Regions from separate parts of the Homo sapiens genome. Here region 2 is linked to region 1. Evidence: fine-mapped expression QTL. A gene starts in region 1. The other region holds a variant in brackets. All regions are shown on one strand. Distances are from middle to middle.

What was found.
Region 2: its variant is fine-mapped to the expression of BOP1 in tibial artery (GTEx, PIP 0.94).

The regions. Positions count from the first base shown.
Region 1 is chr8:144,282,393-144,298,347 of GRCh38, reverse strand. It overlaps BOP1 (BOP1 ribosomal biogenesis factor), which reads left to right and starts at 6,910. Exons shown (of 16, transcript NM_015201.5): 1 at 6,910-7,076; 2 at 9,044-9,253. The coding sequence starts at 6,978. It overlaps HSF1 (heat shock transcription factor 1), which reads right to left and starts at 6,744. Exons shown (of 13, transcript NM_005526.4): 1 at 6,474-6,744. The coding sequence starts at 6,590. RefSeq lists enhancers at 5,947-6,006, 5,609-6,265 and silencers at 6,397-6,556, 6,667-7,166.
Region 2 is chr8:144,257,364-144,271,616 of GRCh38, reverse strand. MROH1 (maestro heat like repeat family member 1) reads right to left here. Exons shown (of 44, transcript NM_032450.3): 36 at 12,703-12,840; 37 at 12,263-12,377; 38 at 11,560-11,706; 39 at 11,243-11,431; 40 at 10,785-10,940; 41 at 10,576-10,710; 42 at 10,401-10,503; 43 at 10,268-10,333; 44 at 9,691-9,962. The coding sequence ends at 9,877. BOP1 (BOP1 ribosomal biogenesis factor) reads left to right here. Exons shown (of 16, transcript NM_015201.5): 4 at 6,546-6,700; 5 at 6,786-6,903; 6 at 7,001-7,102; 7 at 7,180-7,392; 8 at 7,475-7,636; 9 at 7,706-7,786; 10 at 7,856-7,925; 11 at 8,007-8,139; 12 at 8,216-8,396; 13 at 8,476-8,764; 14 at 8,945-9,029; 15 at 9,114-9,221; 16 at 9,300-9,572. The coding sequence ends at 9,453. It overlaps SCX (scleraxis bHLH transcription factor), which reads right to left and starts at 5,164. Exons shown (of 2, transcript NM_001080514.3): 1 at 4,437-5,164; 2 at 3,136-3,513. The coding sequence starts at 5,003. The coding sequence ends at 3,475. It overlaps MIR7112 (microRNA 7112), which reads left to right and starts at 8,880; the gene lies at 8,880-8,944. RefSeq lists enhancers at 1-616, 3,262-4,027, 4,028-4,795 and silencers at 511-680, 5,041-5,230. The variant C/T (reference allele first, on the strand shown) is at 8,440.

The sequences.
Region 1 (15,955 bases):
TGGGATTACAGCCGTGAGCCACCGTGCCCGGCCCTAGTTTTGTAACGTCTGAACATTTTCAGCGGCTTCTTATGCCTTAAGGGTTAAATCCAAGTTGAACATGTCAGGCAACCCCTACCTTAGGGGCCATTATGAATTTCACAGGGTCTGCTGGTGAACCCATCAGAGAACCCAGTGTCTCTCTCATCTTCCTGCCTCAGTGGAACAAGGTCCCTCCTCTGCTGACCACAGGCACCTCTTGGAGGAGTCACCGGTCATAACTGGATATCACGAAAACCTGCCACTGGAAATGGGAGGCCCCTGGCTGGTGCGAGATGCCACACGCTGAGAAGTGTAGGTGTCAGCAAACCCCGCAGCTTGCAGTAAACTTGGAGCCTGTGGCCTCATTTTCTGCAGCACTGTGAAGGACCTGAAATGTGTGTGAGATCCTGCCTGTAGGGACACCTTACATAGAAAGTGTCTGTGTCTCTGAGTATCTTCTCAAAGGGCTCCCTGGCCCAAAACGTGAACAGTGCCGTATTCTACAAGGTGGCCCCACAGCCCAGGCCACAAGCCTCTTGTTCCAGCCTCCTGCCAAGTCAAAGCTGTATCTGCTGACCGGTGATCTGGGCTCCTGGGCTCGGCTGGCCGGCTGTTCCCTCTCCGGGTCCCGGGAGTATAGGCTTTAGGAGCAAAGGGAGCGCGTGTGTGAGTAGCTGTGGCCCACGTGTGGGGAGCAGGGACCACCGGAGTCAGGGCATGGAAGCAGTGAGGCAGGCAGGAAGCGCGAGCAGGTGCAGACAAAGTGGCTCACTTTGTGGCCCCGTTCCCTGGTCTGGTTCTGTCCACATCTGAGCCACCCGCACCTTTCTCATAAACACTCTTCTTGTTTCCGCTCTGGAGGAGCTTCCAGCGTGTTCTCGCCACACAAGGACCAAGAGCAGCACAATCGCCCTCATCTCTCATCACATCTCGTCACTGGCTGCCGTGCACAAGTGTGGTGGCTACTGCTGCTCACCATGGCCCACAGGGTCACAGGGAGGAGGCTGAGGCAGCAGCAGCCCTTGCTGCCAGGTGCCTTGAGACATTTGGGACCACCTCCTTTCCTTAGACAGCCTCCCCTCCACCTGCCAGACCTTGAGGAGACCCTGGAGCCAACAGCCCTCAATATACCCGATGGGAGCTGCTTGCTTCCTCTGGGAAGGCACTGTGAGCCCCACCGACCCCTCTCCAGCTCGCCCTGCACACAGGCTGACTCCTCCAAAACTGAGAGACTTTCAGGGCCAGGCTGTCCATCCCTGGTCCCTCAATAAAGGACTGAGCAAACACTAGCCTGTGGAGTTGGGTGGGCATGGGGCACCGGAGGCATCTGCCTCCCCCCAGGAGGCCACTGCAGCTCAGCCCTTCTGTGCCCTGGGCCCCTCCTCACCGCACCCCCCCCACCACACCATCCGGGGCAGAGGAAACACAGGAGGCTACAGCACAGAGCCTTTTTAATTTTTTCTGTGCTATGCACAGAAGCTGTATGAGGACAGATGTGTGCCTTCTTTTTTTTTTTTTTTGAGATGGAGTCCCGCTCTGTCACCCAGGCTGGAGTGCAATGGCGCGATCTCAGCTCACTGCAAGCCCCGCCTCCTGGGTTCACGCCGTTCTCCTGCCTCAGCCTCGCAAGTAGCTGGGACTACAGGCACCCACCACCACGTCCAGCTAGTTTTTTGTATTTTTTAATATAGACGGGGTTTCACCATGTTAGCCAGGATGGTCTCAATCTCCTGACCTCCTGATCTCGTGATCCGCCCACCTCAGCCTCCCAAAGTGCTGGGATTACAGGCGTGAGCCACCACGACCAGCCCCAGCTGTGTGCCTTCTTATGGCCACACCAGGAGGCACTATGGTCCGGGCACACATCAGGCCCTCCAGACCCTGCAGCACTTCTCACAGCTGCTGCTGTGGGGCCTCCAGCATCTTGGGCCAAATACCAGATCTTCCAGGGTGGGGCCAGTGGGCCTGCTGGGTCTTGGCGGCTCTCAGAACCAGGGAAGCAGGGGTGGCCCTGCCTGCCGTGGGAGCTCCGGACACGATCTGTGACCAGGGTCTGAGTGACTGAGCGTGGCCAGGTCGGCTCTGCTTCTGCAACTCCTCGTGTGCTTATGAGTGGACGCCCTGCCCTGCCTTACTTCAGGGACCCCTCAGGCCCTGCCCCCTGCCTCACTGCAGGGACCACTCTGCTCCCAATTGTCCACCCAGAGACCCTCCACAGCGGCCACCTGACCACTGGCTTTCAATGGAACTCTCTCCCGCGATAGGCCGAGGGCCTTGGTGACCTCCAGCTCACTCAGTCTCAGGGAGCCCCAGGGTTTCAGCACATCCTTCTAGAGTCTTTCCAGCTGCACCCATGAGGCTGGGGCCAGGTGAAGACAGAGAAGCATCCAGGAGCCCACATCTAAGGAGGCCCCCACTCCCAGCGCCATCCGAATGCAGGTAGGTCTTAAAAAGGAATGCCTCAGGGCCAGGCGCGGTGGCTCAAGCCTGTAATCCCAGCACTTCGGGAGGCTGAGATGGGAGGATGGCTTGAGCCCGTGAGTTCCAGACTAGCTTGGGCAATACGGCGAGACCCTGTCTCTACTAAAACCTTAAAAAGAAAAAAAAAAAAAAGCCAGGTCTGGTGGTGCAAGCCTGTAGTCCCAGTGACTCAGCTGAGGTGACTGGATCACTTGAGCCTGGGAGGCAGAGGCTGCAGCGAGCTGCAATCATAGCCCTGCACTCCAGCCTGGGCAACAGAGCGAGACCTTATCTAAAAAACAAAAAGTGCTTCCTTAAATTTTGCACCCAGGTGCCCCCTCTGGCCTCACCCTGATCCTGAGGCCTCCGTCTACCTGGGTTCGTTCTAACCTGCGTGACCATCATTCTAGCATTTGTCTGGCACAGGTCATGTGGCTGTGCCTTGTTCTCAGGCTCCTCAGCCAGCTGGGTGGCTCCTGGGGCTGTAATCTCACCATCTCAGATGTCGAGATTACTTTTCATACTTCCTTATCTTGTTAATAAAGATGGGACAAAATCATAGCTTGTAAAAAACTGGGATGATGGTGAACCCAGTTCTGAGGCTTCACTTTCTGCTTTTGTTTGGTTCTCCATGCTGTCAAATTCTCTGAAGAGGCTGTTGCCCTCCTGAGTCAGCTGCAGCCCAGCAAGGCCCTAGAAGAGCCTCTGCTGGTGGACAGAGGAGCTGCTGCATGCAGACGAGGAAGCTGGGCTGAGGGCCGGCACCAGGGCACGGGGCAGGGAGGCTGCGGGTCCCGGGTCTCATGGGTCTCAGTTCTATGGAGGTGCCTGTCAGTCCAGGTATTCAGTCCCCCAACCCCGTCTTTGGGTCTCAGTGGTACTGGATCCAGGTGTACCTTTGGGAGAAGCTGTTGAGAAGCTGGCTGAGGGAGGACCACCCACGTGCACGCCCATGCTCTTATGTGGATCCCCGGGATCATAACCTTGTGGCTGACACATTTCCTCTCCAAGGCTGTGCTGTCCTCCACGACTTGCTGGGTCCCCTCAAGGCCCTTGCCTGTGTGGGTGGGGTGCTCATGGGAATGAGGGTCTTGGGAGGGGGGGGTGGGAAATCAAACAACACAGGGATGGGGTAGCTGCCACAGTCCCCACCAATGGGGTCTCCTGGGCAGTGACCCGGCATTCTGCCTCCAGTGGCTGCAGTGGGAGTCCTGATCTCAGGCCAGGGAGGGGACGTGCAATGGTGGTCCAGACCTGGTCCCATTCCTGGCCAGGCTCAGTAAAGTTACTGGCCAGTTTCTGGGCCTCGGTCTCCCCCAGGTTATTCAGCCTTGAGAGTTAGTCACCATGCCTGTGATTCTGCCTCATCTTCTTGTGTCAAATAGGGAGGGTTTTTCTTGGCAGAATGGTGGTAAGACTCTGAGCCAGAAGGAGACTCTCCCAGAGAAGGCAGCAGAGAGCAAGAGCACCAGGGCCTTCTCAAGGCCTCCGAGAGCCAGCTGGGCCTGGGCAGTAGATTTGTGGGAGGGTGCCCTGTTGGGACTCTGCTGACAGGGAGTCCTCAGGGCTTGTGTGAGTGCTCTCAAAGTCACAGGATGGGATGATCACCTCCTTTCTCCAGGCCAGGCAGCCAGCGCCGGAAAGCTCTGCAGCCCCCTGCGCGGCCTGGAGAAGGGCTTCCTTCCAGTTTTAAGTCAGTGTTTCTGTCTCATTGCCATGCTCGCCCCCAGTGCTACGTCCTGCACCAACCATTGCCACTTCATACTGACCAGGTGGAACCAAACACTCACATTCCAGTTGGCTCCCCATCCCTCCCCAGGGAGAACAGATCCACAGGTGGTGCACCTGTGAGTGGAGTGGAGGCTGGCCACGGGCCTCATCACACCTGCCTTCCTTGCTCAAAAGCCCTGCCCAGAACATGCCTCGGTCCCAAAAAAGGGTACACTGGGCCCTAACCCACATGCCTCATAATCTTTAAGCAGAAACAGCAAGCAGATTACGGGACAGGACAGATCACGCTAGTAGGATTAAGCTTAGAATATCCCAGATAATCGCGGATGCCCCTCCCCCAATGGGGGAGTTATTCCCCTTAACTTCTGAGGATTAAGGGGAATAAGAAAAAGAAGAAGGGCTGGGTGCAGTGGCTCACACCAGTAATCCCAGCACTTTGGGAGGCCAAGGCGGGTGGATAACTTGAGGTCAGGAGTTCCAGACCAGCCTGTCCAATGTGGTGAAACCCCGTCTCTACTAAAAATACAACAATCAGCCGGGTGTGGCAGCACGCACCTGTAGTCCTGGCTACTCGGGAGGCTGAGGCAGAATTGCTTGAACCCGGGAGGTGGAGGTCGCAGTGAGCCGAGATCGCACCACTGCACTCCAACCTGGGTGACAGAGCAAGACTCGGTCTAAAAAAAAAAAAAAGAAAAAAGAAAAAGACGGATAAAAGAAGACAGAAACATGGGAGTATTTCCTTTGCACAAGAATCCAAGGTCTAGAATGAAGAGATGGTGAAATGAAGCCAGCCTCCAGGAAGGTGCACTGTGCCTTAATGGGACCTGGGGATGGGAAGGCCAACACAGAGGTGTCAGCGGGACAAACACAAAGTGTTTCTAACAAGAGCAAAGATTTCCAGTCTTCTCTTTATTTCCAAACACTCTGTAGGTAAAGCAGAGCCTCAGTAAACCCAAGAAGCAGAAAACCTGGCCTCCTGCCTGGGGCAGCTTCAGTTTAGACTTTTCTTCATTCCTAACAGCATAAAGAGGCTGTGCAAATGGGAGGCACTCAGCAGAGCCTGAAGAACTCTGGGGTCTTAGCTCCTGGGAGGCCACACATGCTTGGTGGCACCCTGCCGGTCACGGTGCCTCCAAAAGCTCCCAATGATCAGTGGCCTTTCTTTTTTTTCTTTTTTTTCTTAGACAGGGTCTCACTCTTTGCCAGGCTGCAGTGGCGGGATCTTGGTTCAGTGCAACCTCTGCCTCCCAGGTCCAGGGAGTCCTCCTATCTCAGCCTCCCAAGTAGCTAAGACCACAGGCAAGCACCACCACGCCCGGCAAATTTTTTGTATTTTTAGTAGAGCTGGGGTTTTGCCATATTGTCCGGGCTGGTCTCGAACTCCTGGCCTCAAGTGATCCACCCGCCTCCGCCTCCCAAAGTGCTGGGATTACAAGCAAGAGTCACCCCACTCGGCCAGTGTGGCCCTTCTTCAGGTCATCACTTGCCAGCCGCAGGCGGTGGCTCTGCCCCTCACCGGACACGACGTCACAGCCGGGATGTGAACAGCAGATTCTGATCTCCAACTCCAGACAATCACTGATTTACTTCTGCAAACCGGAGCTGTCCGGTCTTGCAGGGTCGGACCATGTAAACAAGCCTGCTGCCAGGCAACTGAAGACAGAAACACGAATAAAGATGCCCCATAAGGAATGAAAAACAAAACTCCTCTTGGGAAACCCAGATTTGGGATTCGGAAACGGGCTTGAGATCAACCTGAAGCTTCATGACGTCTTACTGTTTCCACTGCCTTTCCTGTTCCACTACAGCAACGCCCTCCACTTCACGTGCCAAGTCCTGACTTTCTCCTAATAGTTGCCGACCCAGCACCCCGTAGGCTGTCCCCTGGGGACGCCGATGTCCTCTGGGGCATAGCGTCCGCTGGCGAAGCCGGGTGCTTGCCCTAAGCGCGGACACTTCCGCAACCGCCCAACAGTTAGCAGAAGCCCAATACAAGAGACGCCCCATTCTCCCCATCCCAGGGAAACTTCGCTGGGGCAGGGGTTGAACCGAGTGTGGGTCTCGTAGCCGCTTTCCCAACTTAAGGCTCTGGGTCTGAGCAGGCTCGGGACCCGCCGCCCTTCTCTGGCGGGGGCAGGGCAGGCTCACCGCGCGTAAGCTGAAGTGCGGCAGGGCCCCTCCCCGCAGCCCTCCCGCGCCGTCCGCCGCGGCCCTGCTCCCTCCCGGTCCCCACGGGCCCCGCGCCCGCGCGCTGCCCTCACCGGGCTCCAGCAGATGAGCGCGTCGGTGTCCGGGTCGCTCACGAGGGTCCACAGCTTGGTCAGGAAGGCCGGGACGTTGCTGGGCCCCGCCGCGCCGGGGCCCACGGGCAGATCCATCTCGAGCAAGGAGGGAATAGGCGGAGGGAGCGGCCGCAAAGAGGGGCCGAGGGCCGGGCTAACGCCGTCGCCGCGCCAGCCTTCCGGGCCGCGCCGCCGCCCGCTGCGCACACACAGCCCCGGGGCCCAGCATGGCCGCCGCCATCTTGCAACGGGCGCGCTCCCGCCGCCGCCGCTGCCGCCCTCCCGCGTCACCCCCGGCGCGAGCACGCAGGCCCCGACCCCGCCCTGGTCCCCGGCCCAGCCGCGCGCCTGCGCGTGTTGGTCCCACCCCCTTCCCTCCACCCGCCAATCGGGGCCGGGCTGGGCGGGGCGCGTCCTCCTGCGCACGCGGCCCGGTCGCTGTCGGAAGCGGCTGTGCGGGTGGCGGCCGGCGCGCGGTGGGGCATGGCGGGTTCGCGGGGTGCGGGGCGCACGGCGGCGCCGAGCGTGCGGCCGGAGAAGCGGCGGTCTGAGCCCGAACTGGAGCCTGAGCCCGAGCCGGAGGTGACTGTGGCGATGCGGGGCGGCGGGGCGCGTCCCTAGAGGGCCCGGCGGGCACGTGGCCGCGCTGGGGCGGGTGGGCCCGGCTTCTGTCACCTGGGCGCCCGCGCCCAGTGAATCGGTCTTGGGCGTGGGTGCAGCTCCTCTATCGGGGGGTCTCAGGCAGAGCGGACTGCGGGGTAAAGGACGGCGTCCGGGAAGCAAAGAAACGGGGGAGCGGGGAGTGGGGACGGGGCGCCCCTTGCAGCAGCCTCTCCAGCCGTTCCATTTGTGCATCCTGCCAATAAAAGGGCTCGGCTTGCGCTCCCAGTAAATGCTTAACCTACGTATACGCTAGTTAATTGCGTTTTTATGCTCATGGGATAGACATGAGAATAAGAAAACCTGAATAGAACCCAGTGTCTGCTGCATTTGCTGTATTAGAACTCACTGTTGCTCTCTGCTAGCTCAGCCCTGTCTTGGTTGTGGGGATCATCAAATTGGGTGGTGGAGGGGATGGACAGCCAGCCCCTCACAGCCCCCTCGGCCGCGGCCGCGCTGGGTTGTTGAAACTGCCCCATTGCTTTGTGAAGCGAATTCAACTCATCCTGGCTCCCATGGGCTGAATGGCCCGCAGGCCACTCTAGGCGCCAGGTTCTGCGACTTCCACCCTTGGACTAAACGGTCCTCAGGAGCCAGTTGTTTGCGCCCAGGCCACGGATGCCATTTCCACTAGTTATTGTGATTGTGTAGCCGACTGAATACCAAGACACATCATGACTCTGTGTGAGAGAGGCATTGTGTGAACACTCGGTATGCAATAGCTAATACATGCAGGTCGTACCTTAAGTGAGACTTGTAAACTATTAGGAAAACAGTAAAATCTAGAATTCTGCATTCAACTGCTTCCTTTTTCTTTTCTTTTCCTTTTCTTTCTTTTTTCTTTTTTTTTTTTTTGAGACAGAGCCTGGCTCTGTTGCCCAGGCTAGAGTGCAGTGGTGCAGTCTTGGCTCACTGCAGCTTCCACCTCCTGGCTAACTCAGCCTCCTGAGTAGCTGGGATTAGAGGTGCCCGCCACCACCAGCTAATTTTTGTATTTTTAGTAGAGATGGTTTCACCATGTTGGCCAGGCTGGTCTTGAACTCCTGACCTCAGGTGATCCACCCGCCTCAGCCTCCCAAAGTGTTGGGATTACAGGAGTGAGCCACTGTGCCTGGCCTTCAACTGCTTCCTAAGAGTCTAAGTTCTTGTTCCACCCTTTAAGGCCAGTGAAGGACCCGAACACTGTGTGTGCCGGTGTCACGCAGCCAGCAGGGCTCTGCTCAGAGGCAGCTGTGGTCCTGCTCAGAGAGAGGAGTGGGTGGGTTGGTGCGTGGTTGCGGTTAGAGTCTCTATCATTCCTGTGACTCTTCAGCCAATCCTTTCAATTTACTGATCAATCGTTGGTCCCAATCTGGTTAAATGAGGAGGCGTCTGCTTCAGGTGGTAAAAGCCCTTTGGGGACCCATTTCTCTTCCAGCCCCCAGCCCCTTTTCTAGTGACCTCTTGGCTCTGGGGCCTTGGATGCCAGGGTGAGGTGTGGAGAGGGCTCAGGCAGGCTGTCTGAGGGACCCAGTGGAGTCCAGCCCAGCCTGACCCCACAGGGCCTCCGGAGTGTCAGTGGGTGGTAGAGAGCAGTGTTAGTTTTGCGATGAGAGCTGAGCTCCAAGAGGAGGAGGTTGTCCTTGAAAAGCCCCTTCCCTGTGAGGTGCTAGGAATTAAAATGTCGATGGCAAAGGCAAGAGGCTGTCTTGTCAGTGGAGGTAGAAGATGAGGAAGGCTCAGGTTGGGTGGATGCTTTTGGTGGAAGTTTGTGACTGGAGGGGTGTGGTCCTGGAGGCCACATGGAGCTGCTGGTGGGTGGCTGGAGGGGCGAGAGGCAGCTCTCCCTGCAGTGTTCAGTGCCCCATGCCTGGAGGGGCAGTTGTCACCAACCCAGTGTTTCCTTGCAGCCCCCCCTCCTCTGCACCTCTCCTCTCAGCCACAGCACCGGCAGCGATTCTGGCGTCTCCGACAGCGAGGAAAGTGTGTTCTCAGGCCTGGAAGATTCCGGCAGTGACAGCAGTGAGGATGATGACGAAGGCGACGAGGAGGGAGAGGACGGAGCCCTTGATGACGAGGGCCACAGTGGGATTAAAAAGACCACTGAGGAGCAGGTGCAGGTGGGTGAGCGAGGAGCCCCCTCGAGGGCTGTCCCCCATGTGCAGGTGGCCTTGGGCTTTCTGAGACTGCCACTGTACTGCCTTCTCCACCGTCCCTCAGAACCCCAAGGCCGGCGTCCCTCCTTCACTGCACCTGGGGCACGCTTGGGCTCTAGGACGCTGGTTTCCATCCCCAGTTGCGTGCCGTTCCCAGGAACTCTGAAAATCCACATGCCTAGGCCCTTCCCCGTCAGACGATGCTCGGGCAACCCTCCTGGCAACAGGTTGGGTTTCCTTGAGGTGGGGATTTTACTGCTTGGAATCCAGTGGCAGGACCCAGCTGAGGAGGGAGCTGAGCAGCATGGCAGGGCTCAAGCAGGCGGCATGGGGGCCCCAACGGAACCCAGCTGGGCCTGACCCCACAGGGCTTCAGGGGCCTGAGCAGCCGACGGGTAGAGGGTTTAACATTGTACCTGTTGCAGCGATGGTGGGGGAGGATGCACCCTACTCTTATTGAGAACAACAGGAGAAAAGCATAATTTAACTAAAACACAGCATTTGTTATTTTTTTTTATTTTTTATTTTTTTGAGACAGAGTCTCACTCTGTCGCCCAGGCTGGAGTGCAGTGGTGTGATCTTGGCTCACTGCAACCTCCATCCCCTGGGTTCAAGTAATTCTCCTGCCTCAGCCTCTCTAGTAGCTGGGATTACAGGTACATGCCATCACGCCCGGCTAATTTTTGTACTTTTAGTAGAGACAGGGTTTTGCCGTGTTGGCCAGGCTGGTCTCGATTTCCTGACCTCAGGTGAGCCACCACGCCCGGCCTATTTTTTTTTTTTTTTTCTAAGACAGAGTCTTGCTCTGTTGCCCAGGCTGGAGTGCAGTGGGGCGATCTTGGCTCACTGCATCTTCCACCTCCTGGGTTCAAACAATTCTCCTGTCTCAGCCTCCTGAGTAGCTGGGATTACAGGTGCCCACTACCAGGCTCGGCTAATTTTTTTTTGTATGTTTAGTAGTGACGGGGTTTCACCATGTTGGCCAGGCTGGTCTCGAACTCCTGACCTCAAGTGATCTGCCTGCCTTGGCCTCCCAAAGTGCTGGGATTACAGGTGTGAGCCACCGCGCCCAGCCCAGCATTTGTTACTCTAAACATTCTGGAAATCGTTTGTAAGGATTTACTCTCCCAGTAGTTTCGGTGTTCTGGAAGTTACGGCCTTGGCAGAGGTCCCCGTGATAGAAGCCAAGGAACCATGGCTTGTTCATTGTGTGCTAGCTGTGTTGGGTTGGCTTGTTTGCTGGGAAGAAAAGATTTAAAATCACACTTAATTCAGGCTTTAATTATACCACTAACATACACAGAGAAAAAATGATGTGCTGTGTTGGCAGTGGTTTGTAAGATTATGGACAACTACGTTACCCCTTCTTGAGTTTTTAAAATGATACAATACTGGGCCAGGCACAGTGGCTCATACCTGTAATCCCAGCAGCTCGAGAGGCCAAAGTGGGAGGATCTCCTGAGCCCAGGAATCCAGGTCACAGTGAGCTATGATAGAGCCACTGCACTCCAGCCTGGGTGACAAGCAAGACCCTGTTTCAAAAAAAAATTATGAGATAAAACATCCTGGAAAATAATGTAGATATTGTAGCAGCACCATTCAGTAGGGTGGAAGCTCCCACTCAGGGCCCTCACACCTAACCCGTGAGCACAGTTAGTGGTCTGGTGTACATCTTTCTGGGTCTTCTGTCCCTTTTTAAATTAAGGATTTACACATTTACATGTTAATGATTTTTTTATTAAATTCTTTCAGCGGGCGTGGTGGCTCACGCCTGTAATCCCAGCACTTTGGGAGGCTAAGGTGGATGGATCACCTGAGCTCAGGAGTTCAAGACCAGCCTGGCTAACATGGTGAAACCCTGTCTCTACTAAAAATATAAAAATTAGCTGGGCGTGGTGGCGCGTGCCTGTAATCCCAGCTACTCGGGAGGCTGAGGCGTTAGAATCACTTGAACCTGGGAGGCGGAGGTTGCAGTGAGCCGAGATCTCACCACTGCACTCCAGTCTGGGTGACAGAGTGAGGCTCTGCCTCAAAAACCAAAACAATGTTTTCGCATAATAACATATCCAAGTACTTGAAAGGTACTAGAGGTGTCTGCGGAGTCTAGGGAGGCGCCATCTTCTCTTCTCGCTGCTTGTCTCCTGGCCCCTGGAGCACCAGGTCCTCTGCACTGCTGAGTGTGTGCTTGTCCTGCCCATTGCCCTGCTCGGGTTTCTGTGACCGCGTAACTGGCTGCCCCATGCAGGGTGTTTTCCAAAGTACCGCTGTCTGTGGTCTGTGTGCTCCGTCATCCAGCAGGGCCTGAGGTGGCAAGGCCGGCCGGGCTGGTGGGGCGGTCCTCAGAGTTCCCCACGCTGCTGGCTGCCCAAGTCCCTGCCTGAGGCCCTGCCCTGTTGTGGCGCTCATGCACCTGCCCGCGTGTCCTGTGCTTTAGCTGAGGGGCCGAGGCCCTGCCCTGCCATGGCGCCCGTGCATCTGCCCGCGTGTCCTGTGCTTTAGCTGGGAGGCCGAGGCCCTGCCCTGCCGTGGCGCCCATGCACCTGCCCGCGTGTCCTGTGCTTTAGCTGAGGGGCCGAGGCCCTGCCCTGCCGTGGCGCCCATGCACCTGCCCGCGTGTCCTGTGCTTTAGCTGAGGGGCCGAGGCCCTGCCCTGCCGTGGCGCCCATGCACCTGCCCGCGTGTCCTGTGCTTTAGCTGAGGGGCTGAGGCCCTGCCCTGCCATGGCGCCCGTGCATCTGCCCGCGTGTCCTGTGCTTTAGCTGAGGGGCACCTTGGGCCCTGTCAGGGTGTTTTCAGTTCTAAAGTGTGATCCTCATGACTGGGTTTAAATTCTTCCAGGTCAGGAGAATGAATTGATGAGGTGGGGGTGCTTTCAGCTTCTTAGTGGGAACCCCTCCCTTTTCCCCCCTGTTCATCAGAAGCCACCCAGGCACCTTGGCCTGCTGAGCGGCCACTCCCTCCTGCCTGCCCTCCGCGCCCCTCTTGAATGGTGGGAGTCCTTTCCCATTGTGCAGCCCTGCAGGTGGAAACTCAGCCGGCAGCCCAGTGCTGCCTCCTGCATGTTCTCTTGGCTTCCATGAGCGTGGCCACGTGAGGCCTCCCAGAGTGCCGCCAAGATGGCCCCGTCATGCCCAGTTAGTGGCCTCAGGTTAGGCCTGTTTCTGTGTCATCCCGAAGGCAGTCCAGGGCTCCTTACGCCTGTATCTCCGCCACCTCCCACTCGCATCGTGGGTCCACGGGGCCGGGCCACCAGGGGCTCTGCCAGACACCCTCGCCCGCCACAGCCATCTGGAGGATTCTGCCCCCGATGCCCCTGCCAGTGGTTGTGGGTCCTCAACCCAAGAACCCTTCCGTTGAGCGGCTTCTAGAATCAGTGCCCCTTGGTTCTGGGAATTCACACCACAGTGACACAGCAGCTTCTCCTGCTGCTAAGTGTCCTTGCCCTGCAGTGGGCGCACCTGGGATTCTGTGGTCCTGGCCACGGCCACTCGTGTGGTCTTGCAGATGGTTCATGGGCCTCGGTGGGTTACTTGGTAAGTGAGGGTAATGTCTGCCTGGCAGCCCCTGAAGGACGAGATGATGTTTTTGCTAATTTCTCTTCTGCCACGTGCTTCTGCCTGTCCCCCCACTCCCTCCTGTCGCTGTTTCCTCCACAGTGGTTGGCAAGACGTGGCCCCTGTGGCCTCTGCCTCGTGCATCTGAAGGACATCCCAGCCACAGCATCACATCAGACTGGAACAGTGGCGGGATGGGGCTGGGCATCAGGCAGCATGCATGTGTCATGTCACGGACACCTCAGGGACACACGAAGTCAGGCAGGGCGAGGGCCTCACTCCCCAGGCCGCCTAGCCCTTGGTGGGTATACCCGGCCCCGATGGTGCTGTGAAGAAGGGGCTGTGTGACTGGCATGGGAGGGAGCTGCGGCTTTTGTTCATCTCTGCCATCCTGGCAGCGATGTGGCTGATGGGTCACCTTCAGAGAGCCTCCTCCATAAATCTGATTCCAAGTGTGTGCCCCAAACCAACCCAGACCGGCCCGGGGCGTCCTGCGGAGAGCCCCACAGTGGGAGGCCCTTGTAGCGGGGAGCCCGGTGACTGCTGGGGGTCAGCTGCTGGCGGCCCCTGTGGAGACCTGGCGACCTGCCAAGGGCTCCGGACCTGCCTGGGTGGACCCAGGGTGGGCGTGCTTCTGGCTGCAGGGCCGGGCCACAGGCTTCCCTCTGGCTTTCTGCCCTCAGGCCTTTAGCATTGACATGCACACGACCCTGCCTCCTTTCTAAGGACTGTGTAGAATTACGTGGCATTCAGTGAGCAGCTGCACGTGGTGTTCTAGGGCACCTTTGGATGCTCAGGTGCTCCTGAGGGGTGTGCCAGGGAACGAGTCTCCTACCCTTCCCTCCTGGCTCCTGTTGCTGCATCCAGGCAACTACTGTTTCCAGTGCTGAAGTCTCTTTCCAGGATGTTCTAGACATATCCAAACTCGCACAGAGTTTTTGAATGGTGGTTTCTTAAGAGAAGGGGCAGCCGTGCGCTGTCTCAGGATGGTTCTGTCAGGGAGGCCATGGCTCTGGTTTGTACAGTGCTTGGTGCCCGTAGAGTGCCTGGCAGCTCGGCCTCAACAGCTCCAGTGGGTGGGCAGTTGCAGGCTTTTGCTCTTACAGTTGACCTGACAGTAACATGCTGTTTCTCACATGTGCACACCATTCTTGGGGAAAATTCCAAGAGAATTTCTAGGTCAAAGGATAAATGCTTTTTTTTGTTTGAGACAGGGTCTCACTCTGTCACTCAGGCTGGAGGGCAGTGGTGCGATGTTGGCTCACCAAAATCTCAACTTCCTGGGCTCAAGGGATCCTCCTACCTCAGCCTCCCTGGTAGCTGGGACTACAGGGTCCCCGCCACCATGCCTGGCTAGTTTTGTTTTGTTTTGTTTTGTTTTGTTTTTTGAGACAGAGTCTCGCTCTGTCGCCCAGGCTGGAGTACGGTGGTGCAATCTCGGCTCACTGCAACCTCCACCTCCTGGGTTCAAGTGATTCTCCCGCCTCAGCCTCCTGAGTAGCCGGGATTACAGGCGCCCGTCATCACGCCCGGCTAATGTCTGTATTTTTAGGAGAGACGGGTTTCACCATGTTGGCTGAGCTGGTCTCGAACTCCTGACCTCAGGTAATCCACCTGTCTTGGCCTCCTGAAGTGCTGGGATGACAGGCGTGAGCCGCCGCACCTGGCCATCAATGCATTTAATTGTGAAGGTGCTTGGAGCGTCCCTCCGCTAGGCGGTGATGCCATGCACTACTGCAGCCGCCCCTCAGCTGCTTTCCCACCACCAGCCTCCCTCATGGTGTTGCTGCTTCATCTTTTCCTCTTGTTTAGTGATGTTTTTCTTTCATTAAGAATGAGGCTCGCACAGCTGGGCTTAACTGAAAAAATAAAAATAAAAAGAATGAGTCACAGGCTGGGCCCAGTGGCTCACACCTGTAATCCCAGCACTTTGGGAGGCCAAGGCAGGTGGATCTCTTGAGCCCAGGAGTTCAAGACCAGCCTGTGCCATATAATGAGACCCCATTTTTACAGAAAATTTAAAAAATGAGCCAGGCATGGCGGTGCGTGCCCGTGGTCCCAGTCCCGGAAGCCCTTCTGTCTCTTCCCTGTGGCGGCATCATCCATGCACTTAGCTGGCTGGAAACCCTCATGGCTGTTGCCCAAGGGCAGGACAGCTAGCTGGTTCTTGTCATTTTGGTCTGAGCTCCCTGGGCCAGGAGCCCTTTGCTGTTTTCTCTCTGTTTGTTTGTTTTGTTATCTGGCACCACAACAAACTGCCCCAAACCATGGAGCCTTTCTTTTTTTTTTTTTTTTTTTTTTTTGAGATGGAGTTTTTTTGCTCTTATCGCCCAGGCTGGAGTGCAGTGGCACAATCTCGGCTCACTGCAACTTCTGCCTCCTGGGTTCAAGCGATTCTCGTGCCTCAACCTCCTGAGTAGCTGGGATTACAGATGCCAGCCACCACGCTCGGGTAATTTTTTTTTTTTTTGTATTTTTAGTAGAGAGGGAGTGTCACCATGTTGGCCAGGCTGGTCTTGAACTCCTGACCTCAGGTAATCCACCTGCCTTGGCCTCCCAAAGTGCTGGGATTACAGGCGTGAGCCACCGCACCTGGCCACCATAGTGCCTTTCAACAACGAGCATTTGCTGTCTGTGTTTCTGGGGTCAGGAGTCCTGGTGTTTTGTGAGGTGCACTCAAGGAGCAGGGTCTGGCTGTGCCCTTTGCAGCTCCTCCCCTGACTGTTGGCATGAGGAGCTCAGGAGTGAAGGTGAAGAAGGGTACTCTGTGTCTGGGGGGTGGTCAGAGGATAGGGATGAGGACAGGGACAGGGCCCAAGAAGATGGGGTGGGTGCTGTACCTCCCCCTTCCTTCCCTGGGGTATCTGTGGGCCACGGCAGGGCCCACAGCTGTTGCTAGTAGCCTCCTTGGGGCCAGTGGGTTTGATTTATTTTTGTGTTTGTGTGGTTTGAGGGCAGGCATCCCTTCCCCACCCTTTGCGTCCCTGCTACAGTGACCCCTCTTTCTGGGTCCACCTGCTCTGGCACGAGCTTGGTGGGCCAGCCTCACCCCAGGGCCCACCCCATCTCCAGCCTCCCTGCCTTGGGCCTGGCAGTCCTGCCTCTTAATTGC
Region 2 (14,253 bases), 26 kb after region 1:
CGCCCTGGCCTTGCCCTGAGCACTTCAACAGATAAAACCCTGAGGAAGAGGAGGCGGCCTCACGTCGCACAGGAAGGCCGTGTGGCGCTCCGAGACAGGCGGGCGTTTTGTGCAGGGGAGCGGCGCGAACGCTGAACACTACCCGCATTGTAATCGGAGAGGGGCTGGGGAAGAGAGAGACGGAGCGAGGGCGGCTGACCCCACGCTCCCGGGGGACAGGTGGGAGAGGCGGAACGAGGAGAGAGTGAAGGATTCCAGAGGTGGGCCGGCTTCCTCTCTCGCAGACAGACACGGGAGGAGGCGGGCAGCGGGCCAGCCCCATACCTGCAGTTCCAATCTGTGGTCCTGACAGCTGCAGCCACTTTGGGGAGGGGGAGGGAAGGGGGCTCATCGAGAGCGGAAAAATCCCAGCCGACACATCAGCCGGTTGCGGCCTGTGTCCGGTGCAGTCTGGGCTGGGGGCCTGTCCTTGGGGCTGGGCGGCCCCCAGGAGAGCCCTGATGCTGGGTCTGTGTGTGCCCCCGGCCGGCCGGCCGGGGCTCTCCGTGCGGGGCCTGACCCGGAGGGGTCACATGTGTTTCCTGGCAGCCCGCAGGTGCTGCGCTGGGCGGGGCGGGTGGTGGGCGCAGGCGACCGTGATGAATCATGTGTCCCGCCAGCAGCTCGTTCCCCAGGCCGGGGACAGGAGCTGACAGCTGAGGCCCAGCAGAGCGTTTCCAGCCCAGCTCGGCTCGCAGGGGCGGCTGCTGGCCCAGGGTGCAGGCTGGGGCCCCTTCCGTCCCAGCTGCCTCTGTGGGGCACAGGCGGAGGGAGCCCTGGGTCTCTGTGGAGGTGAGGCCAGCACTCTGGGAAGGGAGCCAGGGGCTGTGGTGGGCAGGGAGCACCTGCCACTCGTCTGCCCGGCGGCTGTGAGCTACGAGTGGATTCGGGTGGGCTGCCGCAGGCCTGGGGGTCAGCCCACGCCACCCCCGGTCTGGTTTGAATTTCTGGAGCAGTGGAGGGTGACGGAGTGTTCCTCCCCCGCCCCTCCCCTCTTGCTGGCTGGCGGGCCGGGCCCTCGGCCGCTGCTACCGGTGCAGCTCAGGGAGCGGCTGGGCTGGCTGCCCAGGCCTGAGGCTGGCCAAGCTGCAGCCGCGGTCGGAGTCAGGCCCGCAGCGGAGGGCTTGGCTGTGAGTGCTGCACCCCAACCAGCAGGGCCCTGGGGATCCTTTCAGCTCCGAGGCCTCCAGGTCGTTGTTCCCTGTTCACTTTCTTCTAGCCTCGTTAGACACCCCAAACTCTGACCCCAGTCCACGGGGGCTCTGACGTCTCTTTCCCCTGCACTCCCTCTTGACCCTGCCCAGACCTCCCCATGCTGGCCCGCACCTTCCCACCTGCTCCTGTCTGGCCTCCTGCATTCCCGCTCTGAGCTGGCTCTGCCCTGTCCTTGGTGCCGGCCGCCGACGCCCCGCACCTGCCCGCTCAGGCCAGCAGCCCCTGATGTCCCTGCCCTGGAGACTTTCACTATCTTCCATCCCATTTGTCCCCAACGTTGACCGGCCACTGAGGTTGGGGGTTCATGTGGAGGTTTGCAACCCCCACTAGGCCCAGGTCTGGAAATGGGAGGCCTGGAGGTGAGGGGTAGGTGGGCTATGGACCCTCCCTACAGAACTACACCCAGTGCCCAGTGGAGGGAGGGCTGGCGTGGGCGCCGTGGGCCTTAGGGTGCTATGCAGAGTGCCCGGCCTGGCCATGCTCCTGGGTCCACCCTGCTCCTCACTCACCAGCGCCTTGGTGCCTGGGAGGGTGGCGGGGCGGGGGTGTGAGGAAAGCTCCCAAGAAGGGAAGGGGCTGCGTCAGCCCCTAGCTGCATGTCCGTGTCCCCCGGGCCCTGGCTTCCCGGCGGGCGGAGGCTTCTGCAGTGACTGAGCTTGTCCTCTCCTCCCCTCCCTCTGGCCAGCTGTGGGCTCCTGCAGGATTAGGGAGAGGAAATTTGGGGTTGGGTTTCTCTCTGAACGAAACCTGCCGTTGTGACTTTTTATCCTGTTATATTTCTATCAGATTGGACTCAGCCCCCCTCTAGCCCTTAATGGCTCTGGCTTTGAGAATTTCCTCCAAAATTACACCACTGCTTCCTGCTCCGCCATTCCCTGGAGCCTGTCTTTGCAGAGGAGGGGCAGTCCTGGGCCAGCCCTGCACCGATGCCCACGTGGGCCACAGCACCTGGTCTCCCCCCGAGGGTGCGTCCCTGCCTGTGCTAGCGGGGAACTGGGGCCGGCCGCCGCCCTGACGCCCGCACCTGGCACCATCAGCCATTGTCCACCCAGCCGGAAGTTAGGCTGTGGCCTGGCAGGGTTGGGGGGAGGTGGTCCACACAGCACCGCCCTTCTTCTCTCTGTGCCCACTGATCTCACACCACTCAATGGTAATTGTCACCTGCAGGGTTTTAATGGCCAGCCAGCTGTGCACAGAGCACTGTGGGGGCTAAACCCACCTCCTGTGGTGGGCGGGGTCTTCAGGGGGCTGGATGGGCCGTGGTGGTGGGAGGAGGATGGCCAGGGGTCCTCCTTCCCACGTGGGCAGTGCTTCCAGGGGCCAAGTGGCACTGGTGCATGAGGAGATGCCCCTCTCTCCAGTCAAGGCTCGTGGAGGCAGGACACCCACTGCCCTCGCTGGGGCTGGGAGCCCCCCCCTCCGCTGGGCAGCACAGCTCGCTCCACTCCTTGTGGCCACCTGCAGCGCCCTCCTCACCCTCAGGGCCCCCGGGTGCCCGACAGGCCCGAGTCGGGGGCACCCTTGCCCTGCTGCTGCCTCTGTCCCTGCCGCTGCCTCCCTGTCCCTGCCTTACAGCGTCCCTGCCTTGTGCCTCGCCCTCCCCATCTTCTGCCACGCAGCTCCTCCCCCACCCTCTCTCCCGGCGTGGCTCCCTTGTCCCCACCCCACAGCTTCCCGATATGAGGCTCTGTGGGTGAGCTAAGCCCATCCTCACCGCCTCAGCCCAGGGAGGGGTGGCCCTGAGCCTGGAAAGTGGGGGCTTCCCAGGGAGCCGGGGTACTTGGCCCAAGGAGGATGGGACCACCAAGGGTGGGAATGGAGGCTCAGGCTGGGGGCTGGGGGTGGATTCTGAACCTTTCATGAGGACAGTTGGCCTCCATATTTGGAAGATACTGTTTTGTTTTTAATTATACAAAATTTTCAGACTTTATATTATCATATCAAAAACACAAGATGCCATCACACAGTGGCCGGAAGAAAAGCCAGCGCAGAAAGTTCCAGTGGGCCCGGGCAGGTGCTGGGGCCAGCGCAGAGTCCCGCTGCCGGCGCCTGTCTGTACGTCCGTCTGTCCCTCGGCCCCGCTCGCAGCCAGGGCTGGCCTGGGGGCATGCTTGCGGTGGGCCTTGCCCAGCTCAGGTCCAAGGTGGGGGCTGTCTGCAGTCACCCCGGGCGTCCACCTCCCCCAGCAGCGTCTGCCTCCTGGCTGCTGCCGGCCACCTCCTAACTGCGAATCGCTGTCTTTCTGTCGCGGTCCTTGCTCTGCAGAGGGGAGGGAGGAGTGTCAGGCCCCGGCAGAGCCCAGCGCCAGTCTGCGCCTCTCTGGCCTCCCTGCTGGGTGCCATCTCAGGTGGCCAGCGCCAAGGCACCTCCTTCCCGGCTCTCCCCAGCTTCCCTCAAGCGTTTTGGGGAGGGGAGCATACTGCTGCACAGCCGAAATTGTAAAATTAAATTTCCCAGATGTTCAGGCCCCAGGAGCTCGCGCGTGCTGTCTGGAGAGGAAATGGGGATTGGGAAAAGCCGTGCCGTATTTTCTCCCTGCTCACCCTGCTTTTCCGGTGCCACCAAGCACAGCAGGAGCTGTAAATCACAGCTGGCCAGCGTCTCCTGCAGGGGCCCTCACCCCCAGCCCCCACATCTCCTGCCAGCCTCTGCCTTCGTGTCCCATGGCCCACGTCTCGGGCAGCCCTACAGGACCTGGTGTCTTGGTGTGCGGCCTAGGTGGGGGACGGACAGCAGGTGCCCAAGATGGCTTAAGCCAGTGCTGGGCCGCAGGGGCTAAGAACCCGGGGTCCTTCCTCTCTTGCCTTGCAGCCTCTTACTTTCTGAACTCAGCTGTTTTCACTCCGCCTTTCAACTTACTGAAAAGGGAAGCTTGCAGCGGCCTGGTCCAGCTCCCCAGCCTCCCCGCCCTGGGTGGGCCCCTTTGGCCATCCCTAGCTCTTACCCCTCATGCAGCTCCCTGCAGGGGACTCCACACTCCACTGGGAGCCGAGTGTCCTAGGGACGCCCTGGAGAGGAGCCCCAGGAGAAGGCCCCAGCCCCCGGCAGGCCTGTGTTACAGGTGTGCCTGCCTGTGCCCTGTTGGGGAGCCCTGCCCGTGTGGCCTCGCCTCCTCTGCCTGGCAGGTGTGGGCTGAGGGGCGCGTTGGAGGCCCCCCTCGGCGCCCCACGGCCCGTGCTCACCAACTTTCTCTGGTTGCTGAGGCAGAAGGTGCAGATCTGTTTGGGCTGGGTGTTCTCGCCGTCGCGGGCGGGAGGCGGCGGGGGCGGCGGCGGGGGGCTGCCGGCGCGCGCCGCGTGGAAGAAGGCGGGCCCGGAGTGGCAGGGCTGTCCGTCGCCGCAGGCCTCGCCCGCCAGCAGCACGTTGCCCAGGTGCGAGATGTAGCTGGAGGCCAGGCGCAGCGTCTCAATCTTGGAGAGCTTGCGGTCGGCGGGCTCGGTGGGGATCAGCGTGCGCAGCGCCGTGAAGGCCGTGTTCACGCTGTTGGTGCGGTCTCGCTCGCGCGCGTTCGCCGTGTGCCGCTGCCGGGGCTCACGGCCTGGCCGGCCCCCTGGCCCCCCGCCCCCGGCCCGCCGGCCCCCCGCCCTCCGCCGGGCGCCCTGGAGGCCGCAGCGCGCCGCGTGCACGCGACAGGGTTTCTCGTCGGAGCCCGAGCTGTCGCTGCCGCGGTCCTCGTCCTCCGACAGCGGGCTCACCTCGGGGTACAGGTAGCGGCCCGGCGGCGCCGGGCGCAGCGTGGCGAAGGACATGGGGCCGGCGGGGGCGCGGCGTCAGCTCTGTCGCGCGCTGCTCATGCCGCCTCCTGCGGCCGCCGCGGGCCTCGCGGGCCGGCCGGGGCGAGGCGCGGGGTCTCGGCTGCGCCCCGCGGTGGCAGCTGCCGGGCGTCGCGCGCACATGTGCGTCCCGGGCCGGAGCGGGGCCCCGAGCTGCGCCTTTATAGCGGCGTCCCGGCCCCTCCCCCGCGCACGCCCCGCCCCTCTCAGCCCGGAGGCTCCTCGAGCAGCGCCCGCCGCGTCCCTCGGCCTTCTGTGGCCACGCTTTGGCGGGGGTGGGGGGGGCGGGGCTGGTCTTTGGGGGCATCGTTCCGTCTCTGGGGATGCGGAGGAACTGGGAGGTCGCTTCTGGGCTGTAGTTACTCAGGGCCCCAAAACTGCAGTGCCCCCCGTCCCCGGGAGAGGGGAGGAACCCACCACCCCGTTTTCTCCCGTGGCACAACTGAGTTAACCCAGCCGCCCTGGCCCTGCTGCCTGACCGCACCCTGTCTGTCTTTGCCTCCCATGTGCGCCAGCGCCTGCCTGTGCCAGGCCGTGTGCAGGGGGCGGGCACAGGCGAGTATTTAGGGGCCTAGAGCTCAGTCTCTCCGCCTGTCTGTCCTGCACCTGCCTCTCCAGGCTTGGCACAGACTGTGCCTTCTGCTAGCTGGCCATGTCCCCTGTTCTTGTGCTGTGTGGACCTCTCACCCCGTCGGTCTCCTTGCCCCTTCCTCCTTCCCCCGTTCCTCTCCAGGGCCACCAGGCCCCTCAGGAAGCACACACATACCCCCATTATCCAATTTGGGGATGGCCCCCTATCTCCATGGGGAGGAGAGGGAAGGACCCTCAGCAGGGGGCAGGGCCCAAGGGGTCCCTCCTGCAGCAGGGGGCCCGGCAGGCTCCCAGCTGTGCTCTGTCTTGCCTGGGCCCCTCCCCGTGGCTACTGTTGCAGGAAGCAGCCTCCTGGGCAGCGGTCCCCAGGCTGGAAGGAGCGAGGGTGGCGGCTGGCAGGGGCTGCAACCAGGAATGTACGTCCAGGAACGTGGCTGTTCTGCCTGGGGAGGGGCCGAGGGCAGACGGTGGGGGGTCCCCCACAGAGAGGTCTTGGCTTCTGCCTCTCTGTGGAATGGGTCAGTTGGGGTCTTCCCCGAGTCCCCGTCTTATAGCTGCCCACTTCTGCCTAAGGCCCCTGCCAGGGGAGGGAGCCCGTGGGTGATGAGGTCATCCCTGTCTGTGGCTGCCCAGAGCCCTGGCCAAGGAATCCAGTGAGGGGGGAGCTCTGGGGTTGGCACCACTTCAGTGGAAAATGTGAAGGTGCAGCTCCGGCGCCTCCGAGGGCGGGGGTGGGGGCAGCGTGGCCGCCATGCCACGTCAGACCCCAGGGCTGGGGAACAGGCGTAGGTCAGGGCCAGTGACCTCAGGGCACTTGAGGCTGGGCCTGCACTCCCCCTGCAACCCCCTCACCTGCTCCCCTGGGCGGCCCGAAGCGGGGGTGGGCCTTGTAGGATCAGATGCCGACATGGTGGCCCCCGGCTGCAGGACATCCGGAACACGGTGGGCAACGTGCCCTTGGAGTGGTACGATGACTTCCCCCACGTGGGCTACGACCTGGATGGCAGGCGCATCTACAAGCCCCTGCGGACCCGGGATGAGCTGGACCAGTTCCTGGACAAGATGGACGATCCTGACTACTGGTGAGGGCTGGTGGGGTGGGGCCAGCAGCCGGGGTGGGCCCGAGGGGTGGGGCAGGGCTGGCGGGGTCTGACTGGCGGTCTCCAGGCGCACCGTGCAGGACCCGATGACAGGGCGGGACCTGAGACTGACGGATGAGCAGGTGGCCCTGGTGCGGCGGCTGCAGAGTGGCCAGTTTGGGGATGTGGGCTTCAACCCCTATGAGGTAGGTGGCAGGGGCTGGCCCCTGGGCGGCGGGGGTCCTGGAGGCACCAGCAGGGCCTCAGCCACTCTGGCCCACACGCCCACATCTTCTCCCCCAGCCGGCTGTCGACTTCTTCAGCGGGGACGTCATGATCCACCCGGTGACCAACCGCCCGGCCGACAAGCGCAGCTTCATCCCCTCCCTGGTGGAGAAGGAGAAGGTGGGGCACACAGCCCCTGGGGCTTGGCCTGGGCTGACCGCCCCGCACTGCCCGTCCTGACCCGGCTGTCTATGCAGGTCTCTCGCATGGTGCACGCCATCAAGATGGGCTGGATCCAGCCTCGCCGGCCCCGAGACCCCACCCCCAGCTTCTATGACCTGTGGGCCCAGGAGGACCCCAACGCCGTGCTCGGGCGCCACAAGATGCACGTACCTGCTCCCAAGCTGGCCCTGCCAGGCCACGCCGAGTCGTACAACCCACCCCCTGAATACCTGCTCAGCGAGGAGGAGGTGGGCCTGCATCCTGGGGGCCGGGACCCTGTCCCCATGCTTCCCTGTGACCCTCCCCACCCCTGTGTCTTGGTCTCCACAGCGCTTGGCGTGGGAACAGCAGGAGCCAGGCGAGAGGAAGCTGAGCTTTTTGCCACGCAAGTTCCCGAGCCTGCGGGCCGTGCCTGCCTACGGACGCTTCATCCAGGAACGCTTCGAGCGCTGCCTTGACCTGTACCTGTGCCCACGGCAGCGCAAGATGAGGGTGTGTGGGGGTGGCACACCAGGGGGGTGGCACAGGGGGCAAGGCTGACCTGGCGCTCTCCTGCCCCAGGTGAATGTAGACCCTGAGGACCTCATCCCCAAGCTGCCTCGGCCGAGGGACCTGCAGCCCTTCCCCACGTGCCAGGCCCTGGTAAGTGGAGACTAGGGGGCTGGGGTTGCACCCTCCCAGTCTGACTCCTCACTGCCGCCGCCTCCTCAGGTCTACAGGGGCCACAGTGACCTTGTCCGGTGCCTCAGTGTCTCTCCTGGGGGCCAGTGGCTGGTTTCAGGTGGGTCCGAGCTGGGGGCAGCCTTGAGCTGGGGGGCAGGTGGGATGGCCAGGTGTTGAGAGCTGTCTCTGCCGCATCCAGGCTCTGACGACGGCTCCCTGCGGCTCTGGGAGGTGGCCACTGCCCGCTGTGTGAGGACTGTTCCCGTGGGGGGCGTGGTGAAGAGTGTGGCCTGGAACCCCAGCCCCGCTGTCTGCCTGGTGGCTGCAGCCGTGTAAGTGGAGGCCCTGGGGGCTGGGGAGCCAGGGGTGGCACTGTGCTTAGGGGCCGTGTCTGGGCCTGGCTCACAGGGAGGACTCGGTGCTGCTGCTGAACCCAGCTCTGGGGGACCGGCTGGTGGCGGGCAGCACAGATCAGCTGTTGAGCGCCTTCGTCCCGCCTGAGGAGCCCCCCTTGCAGCCGGCCCGCTGGCTGGAGGCCTCAGAGGAGGAGCGCCAAGTGGGCCTGCGGCTGCGCATCTGCCACGGGAAGGTACGTGGGGCGCCTTGGGGGTGAGGCTGCAGCGGGAGGGGCC[C/T]GGCTCAGCCACTCAGCCAGCCTTGCTCTCCTGCAGCCAGTGACGCAGGTGACCTGGCACGGGCGTGGGGACTACCTGGCCGTGGTGCTGGCCACCCAAGGCCACACCCAGGTGCTGATTCACCAGCTGAGCCGTCGCCGCAGCCAGAGTCCGTTCCGCCGCAGCCACGGACAGGTGCAGCGAGTGGCCTTCCACCCTGCCCGGCCCTTCCTGTTGGTGGCGTCCCAGCGCAGCGTCCGCCTCTACCACCTGCTGCGCCAGGAGCTCACCAAGAAGCTGATGCCCAACTGCAAGTGGGTGTCCAGCCTGGCGGTGCACCCTGCAGGTGAGGGGTGGGGGCGGTGCACCCTGCAGGTGAGGGGTGGGGGGGGGGGCGGTGTACCCTGCAGGTGAGGGGTGGGGGTAGGGGCAGTGCACCCTGCAGGTGAGGGGTGTAGGTGACGGGCAGGGCAGTGCACCCTGCAGGTGAGAGCGGGAACACCTGCATCACAGCCTTTGGCCCTAGGTGACAACGTCATCTGTGGGAGCTACGATAGCAAGCTGGTGTGGTTTGACCTGGATCTTTCCACCAAGCCATACAGGATGCTGAGGTGAGGAAAGCTGGGGGTGGAGGCGGCCAGCAGAGCCCCTCCCTTCAGCCCGAGCCTGCCTTCAACCTGGTTCCCTCCCCCCAGACACCACAAGAAGGCTCTGCGGGCTGTGGCCTTCCACCCGCGGTACCCACTCTTTGCGTCAGGCTCGGACGACGGCAGTGTCATCGTCTGCCATGGCATGGTGTACAAGTGAGTGCTGACCCTGCCTGGCCCCCTCCCCAGGGCAGTGGTGTCTGGCCGTGCCCTGAGCCCTCCTCGTCCCCACAGTGACCTTCTGCAGAACCCCTTGCTGGTGCCCGTCAAGGTGCTGAAGGGACACGTGCTGACCCGAGATCTGGGAGTGCTGGACGTCATCTTCCACCCCACCCAGCCGTGGGTCTTCTCCTCGGGGGCAGACGGGACTGTCCGCCTCTTCACCTAGCTGTTCTGCCTGCCTGGGGCTGGGGTGGTCGTGCTGAAGTCAACAGAGCCTTTACCCTGTGCTGCCTGGTGCTCCCACCTTCTTGAATTGGGGTTGCCAACAAAGCCGCCCCCACCACAGCGCCGAGCCTTCCCCTCACTCAATTTTGCAAAAACAGTGGGGACAACACAGCCAGTCCAGGGCACCCTCTGGCCCATCCCCTAAGAGGCTCAGCATCGCACCCTGTCAGTCACTCGCTGGGAGCAGATGAGTTTATTGGGCACATCCCTCACTGAAGGGCTTGGGTTTGGTCCCCAGCAGTGCCTGTTCTGGGGCCAGGCCCCTCCAGTCGTGTGCCCAGGCTGTGGTCCTCAGGAGGCCCTGTCTTGGAGCTCAGGCACAGGTCTGGGTGCATACTCCTCGCTGGGGGTGCTGGCCGGAGCCTTAGGCGAGCTTCACCAGGCGGCCCAGGGCCTCAGCAGCCCTCGTCCGCACCTCGGGGGCCGGGTCCTTCAGCAGGATCTGGAGCGCTGGGGGTAGAGGAGGGGGGCTGCCTGCGGGCTGTGACCTCGGCATGCCCATGCCTGCGCGTGGGCCACGCTCTCCTGACAGCCTCTGCTGGGAGGCTCAGGAGCCAACGGAAAGATCGTTTTTCCTTTTTTAGTGTTTTTTAAGCTCTTTTGGAACAGTTAAGAAGTTTCCGTGAATTACTAGAGACGATGAGGTCACCAGTGACAGGGAAAAAGTCCTGAAATCCAGGAAAATCACTTAGTCCCTGCGGGTGCCTACAGGGTCAGCAGGGCCCAGCGGAGGGGCCCCGTGGAGGGGTGCTCACCCGCAATGAGCTGGTCCAGGTCCACCTGCGGCTGCTGCCTGGGCTCCGAGTGCAGCACCAGGAACCCTGTGAAGTGGGGGCATCAGGCGGGGCTGCCGGGCGGCGTGGGGGTGGGGCAGGGGGTGGTGCTTACCGGTGAACAGGGGTGCAGCAGCTCGGACGTTCTCCCAGCTGCTCTTGAAGTAGAACAGGCAGGTGGTCAGGAGACGGCCCAGCAGGTCTGGGAAATGGTGCATCTGGGGAGAGGCCTGGTCAGTGCCGCCTGGCCCCGCCCCACCCACCACGCCCCGCCTGGCCCCACCCCTCACCAGGTGCTTGCAGGTGGTGTTGAGGAACTCCCCGAAGTGCAGGGCTCGGCCCTCCTGCAGGTGTTTCTGGAAAGCAGCTGAGAGCTCCTCACATGCCAGATTGGGGCCACACATGCGCAGGGCAAACCTGCAGGCCTAAGGGATGCGGCACTGGGGCCAAGTCCAGTTGAGGCCACCCACCCCATCCCACTCACCCCCTGGCTACTCACGCTGGCCACGGTGGCCTGAGGGTCCTGCAGGTGCAGCAGCAGGGGCGCCAGCCCGCCCACCACCTGGTCCAGGAAGACGTCCTCACAGTCTCCGTGGCAGACCTTGTTAAGGTGCCCAAAGAGGCGGATAGATGCCGTCCGGAACTCCATCTTCTCCTGGGAAGGACATGCAGCATACGTCTCCTCACAGGCTGTGCCCCTGCAGGCCTGCCTGCCTAGCCCCCTGCCATTGATGGGTGCCCTTGCCTGACCCGGGCCAGGAAACACCCCGACGGGTGGGGGCCTTACGGGTGGGGGCTGCCAGGCCCAGCAAAGCAGCAGCCCTGCAGGTCCGCGCTCTCCACGGTCACCTAGCCGAGGTGGGAGACAGGGAGGAGGGTGGGGCTGGGGCTAAAGCTCAGAGTAAGAGGCAGGAAGGGCTGGGGCCCTCTTCCCTCCCCCTGCCCCAACCAGCCTACACTGTCGAAGAAAGGCCGGATGCGGATGGCCACGTGCAGCAGCCCTGAGCGCAGGTCCCAGGACTCCACCAGGTGCACCAGCCTCGCAAGGCCCAGCATGGCCTCCAGGGCCACTGGGCTGTGAGGGTTGTCCCCGTCGTCCAGCCCGCCAATCATGGCTGTGAGGAGCTGGGGGCCGTGGGTTCGCACCTGAGGATACCTTACACTCAGCCTGGGTCCCAGAGTCACCGTCTGCTACCCCACAAGACAGGGTGGCCTCCATGCACAGCCCCCCACCCATGCTGCCTGGGACCCAGAGGGGCTGGTGGCCACCCCACCTTGTCAGGGCAGCCGGAGGCCAGGTTGGCCAGGCCGCGGAGCACCAGCCTCCGCACGCTGGCGCATGTGTCCTTCTGGCGAGCCGCCAGGCTCTCCAGCAGCGAGTCCAAGAGCATGAGGTCGTTGGCCACGTTGCTGTTCAGCAGCTGCAGGCAGAGGTGCTGTGACTTCCCTCTCCCCGCTGACCCCAGGGCTCAACCCACCAGCCCAGGCCCAGAACACCAGAGGCTGTCCCCACGCCGGTGTGGCAGACAGAGGTGGAGCACCTACTCCCTGGGTCTCCGATCAGTGGCGACCCCTCCCTGTTGTGCCGCTGGGGCCTGCTCTGACGCCCGCTGTGCTCTGCTGCACGGCCTTGGGCAAGATTTTGGCATCTTTGGCCACGAAGGCCAAGACCACACCACCAAGGGCACCTGGGGTCCCAGGGGCCAGCCCTGTCCAGCTACAAATGTACCCAGCTGGACTTGGGGAGAGTACAGGCTGCAGGGAGCCTCGGTCCTCCTCTCACCAGGCACAGAGGGGGTGTCCCTGGGTGGGACTGAGTGAGTTCTGGCATGGGGGAGGAGGTAGCTAGCATCCACATAACCTCCCTCACAGACCACGGTCGAGGGGGCCTTTTAGGGGTAAGAAAAGGGCATCCCGTGCCTGTCCTGAGCAGGAGCCCCACCTTGGTGCCCAGCATCCGTCCCTGGAAGGGCCTACCTCGGCCAGGAAGGCGGTGGTGGTCACCCTCTGGTTCTCATACGCACTGCTGTGTGTGCATGCCAGCGTCTTCAGCACCAGGGGGAGTCGGGGCCCTGCGTGCTCAGCCATGGCCCTGGGAAAGGGGGCCGCTGAGGGTGCAGGGGCTGTTGCTGTGCTGAACCCTACCCAGGCACCTTCCACCCTGCACAGCCCTGGTCCGCTCCACCGCCAGCTGCCAGGTTCTGGGAGTTCTATGTTTCAGAGATGCCTCCCAGCTTGCCTCGCCAGGCCTCTGCAGGGGTGCCTCCCTACCCCTGCCCCAGAGAGTGAACAGGCAGGAGCCCAGGGCACCATTGGCCTGACACGCATGGGCCCCCGCCTGATCCTGTCATGTTCTGGGCTCGAGATCCGGTGGAGCCCAGCCAGTGCTGGAGCTGCAGTGGGCTGGGCCCGCTCACCTGGCCAACCTGGTGGCCCCCTCCTCATGCCCCGCCGAGGTCCTGAGCAGTTCCCAGCCTCCCTCCAGGTCCATGCGCTGTACCACATCCTCGCTGCCGCTGCGGAGTAGCATGGACCGCAGGGTGTCCACTGCAGAGCTGCAGGATTGCCAGGGTGCTCAGCTGGTAGGGCACACACGCCTACCTCCCTTCCTGATTAACTCCTCAGGTCTGCACCCAATGCGTGTTGCCCACCTGGTGGCTAGCCCTATCCCTGCCAGAGCCACTCTCCAGGAAGCAGGCTCTGGGCCATCTGCTAGAGGCCCCCCATTTCCCCACCCAAGGCAAGGACGCAGATGTTGGCTTGGAGGTGAGCTAGTAGCAAGGTCAGCCTGTGGCCACCTGGCCACCAGCCTGAGAGCTGGACACAGGCAAAGCCCTCTGGCTGCACCGGCCTTCCTTTCCGGACACCCAGACGCTGCTGGGCACCCACACCACAGGTGCCCCCCACCCCGGGCCTGTTCCTGCCTGGCACCTCGGGTTCTCACACCTGTACCCCAGGAGACTCCACAGCCCTCTGGGAGGCGAGCAGGCCCCTGATCCACTCCCAGTGTCGGCTGAGGCTGGCTGGCAAGTGAGCGGGAGGATGGTGCCGAGAGCTGGAGGGGCTGCTGGCGTGCTGAAGAGCAGGCGCCCTGGGCGTGCAATGGGGGCCACCTTGGCCAACTCTCTGACTCCCCAGACCTCCACCAGGCAAGCACCTTGCCCTCTGGTCTCCCTGGCAGTGGCTGGGCCAGAAACTGGCAGGGAGAGTCTGATGTTGAAGCCTCTACAGGGCCCAGCTTGAGCCTGGCATCGACCATCGGCTCAGATGAGCCCTTCCCTGCTGAGGCTGCTCCACTCCTGGCTGCCAGTGGGTGGGGCGTAGTGTGTGACCCAACAGGCACGGTCTGGGGCAGAGGATGCCCTGCACCAGCGTCCCCACCCAGCAGGACCCTCCATTTCAACTCCACAGCCCCTGCCATGTGGCTTTCCGCTGCCCTCGAGCACCTCACACTTAGGCCCCCGCCGCCTTTGGACCTCTGTCCCCACAAGGCTTCGTCCTCAGGAGCACCTGGCCCAAAAGCAGACAACCCCCGAGCGGCACGGGCCGTGTGGTGACCGCTGGTGGTGGTGACAGTGCCACTGCCCTGGTCACCTCCTGCCAGGTGTCCCACAGGGCCCCTGGTGTGCTGCGACGTGGAGTGGGCCTAGCAGGGAACAAGTGGCCCCGCCAAGCTGGGGGCCAGGCCCTACTCGCCTGGATGGTGTGTGAGGCCCTCATGCAGGTGGGATCTAGGAGGAGGGTGTGGTGGGCACAGGAGCATGAGACAAGCTTGTTAGAGATCTGGTGATGGGCCCCATGAGGCTTCTGGACGGTTGGGTACACAGGGCTGGTGATGCCGGCAGGAATGAGGCGGCCTGAGAGCTGGACAGGGGCTGTAGGAGCTGAGGGCCACGGGGGTCTCGGCAGCCCAGGAAGGAGGTGCTGGGGGCCTGCTCCCAGTATACCACTGTCCCCATGGGGTGTGC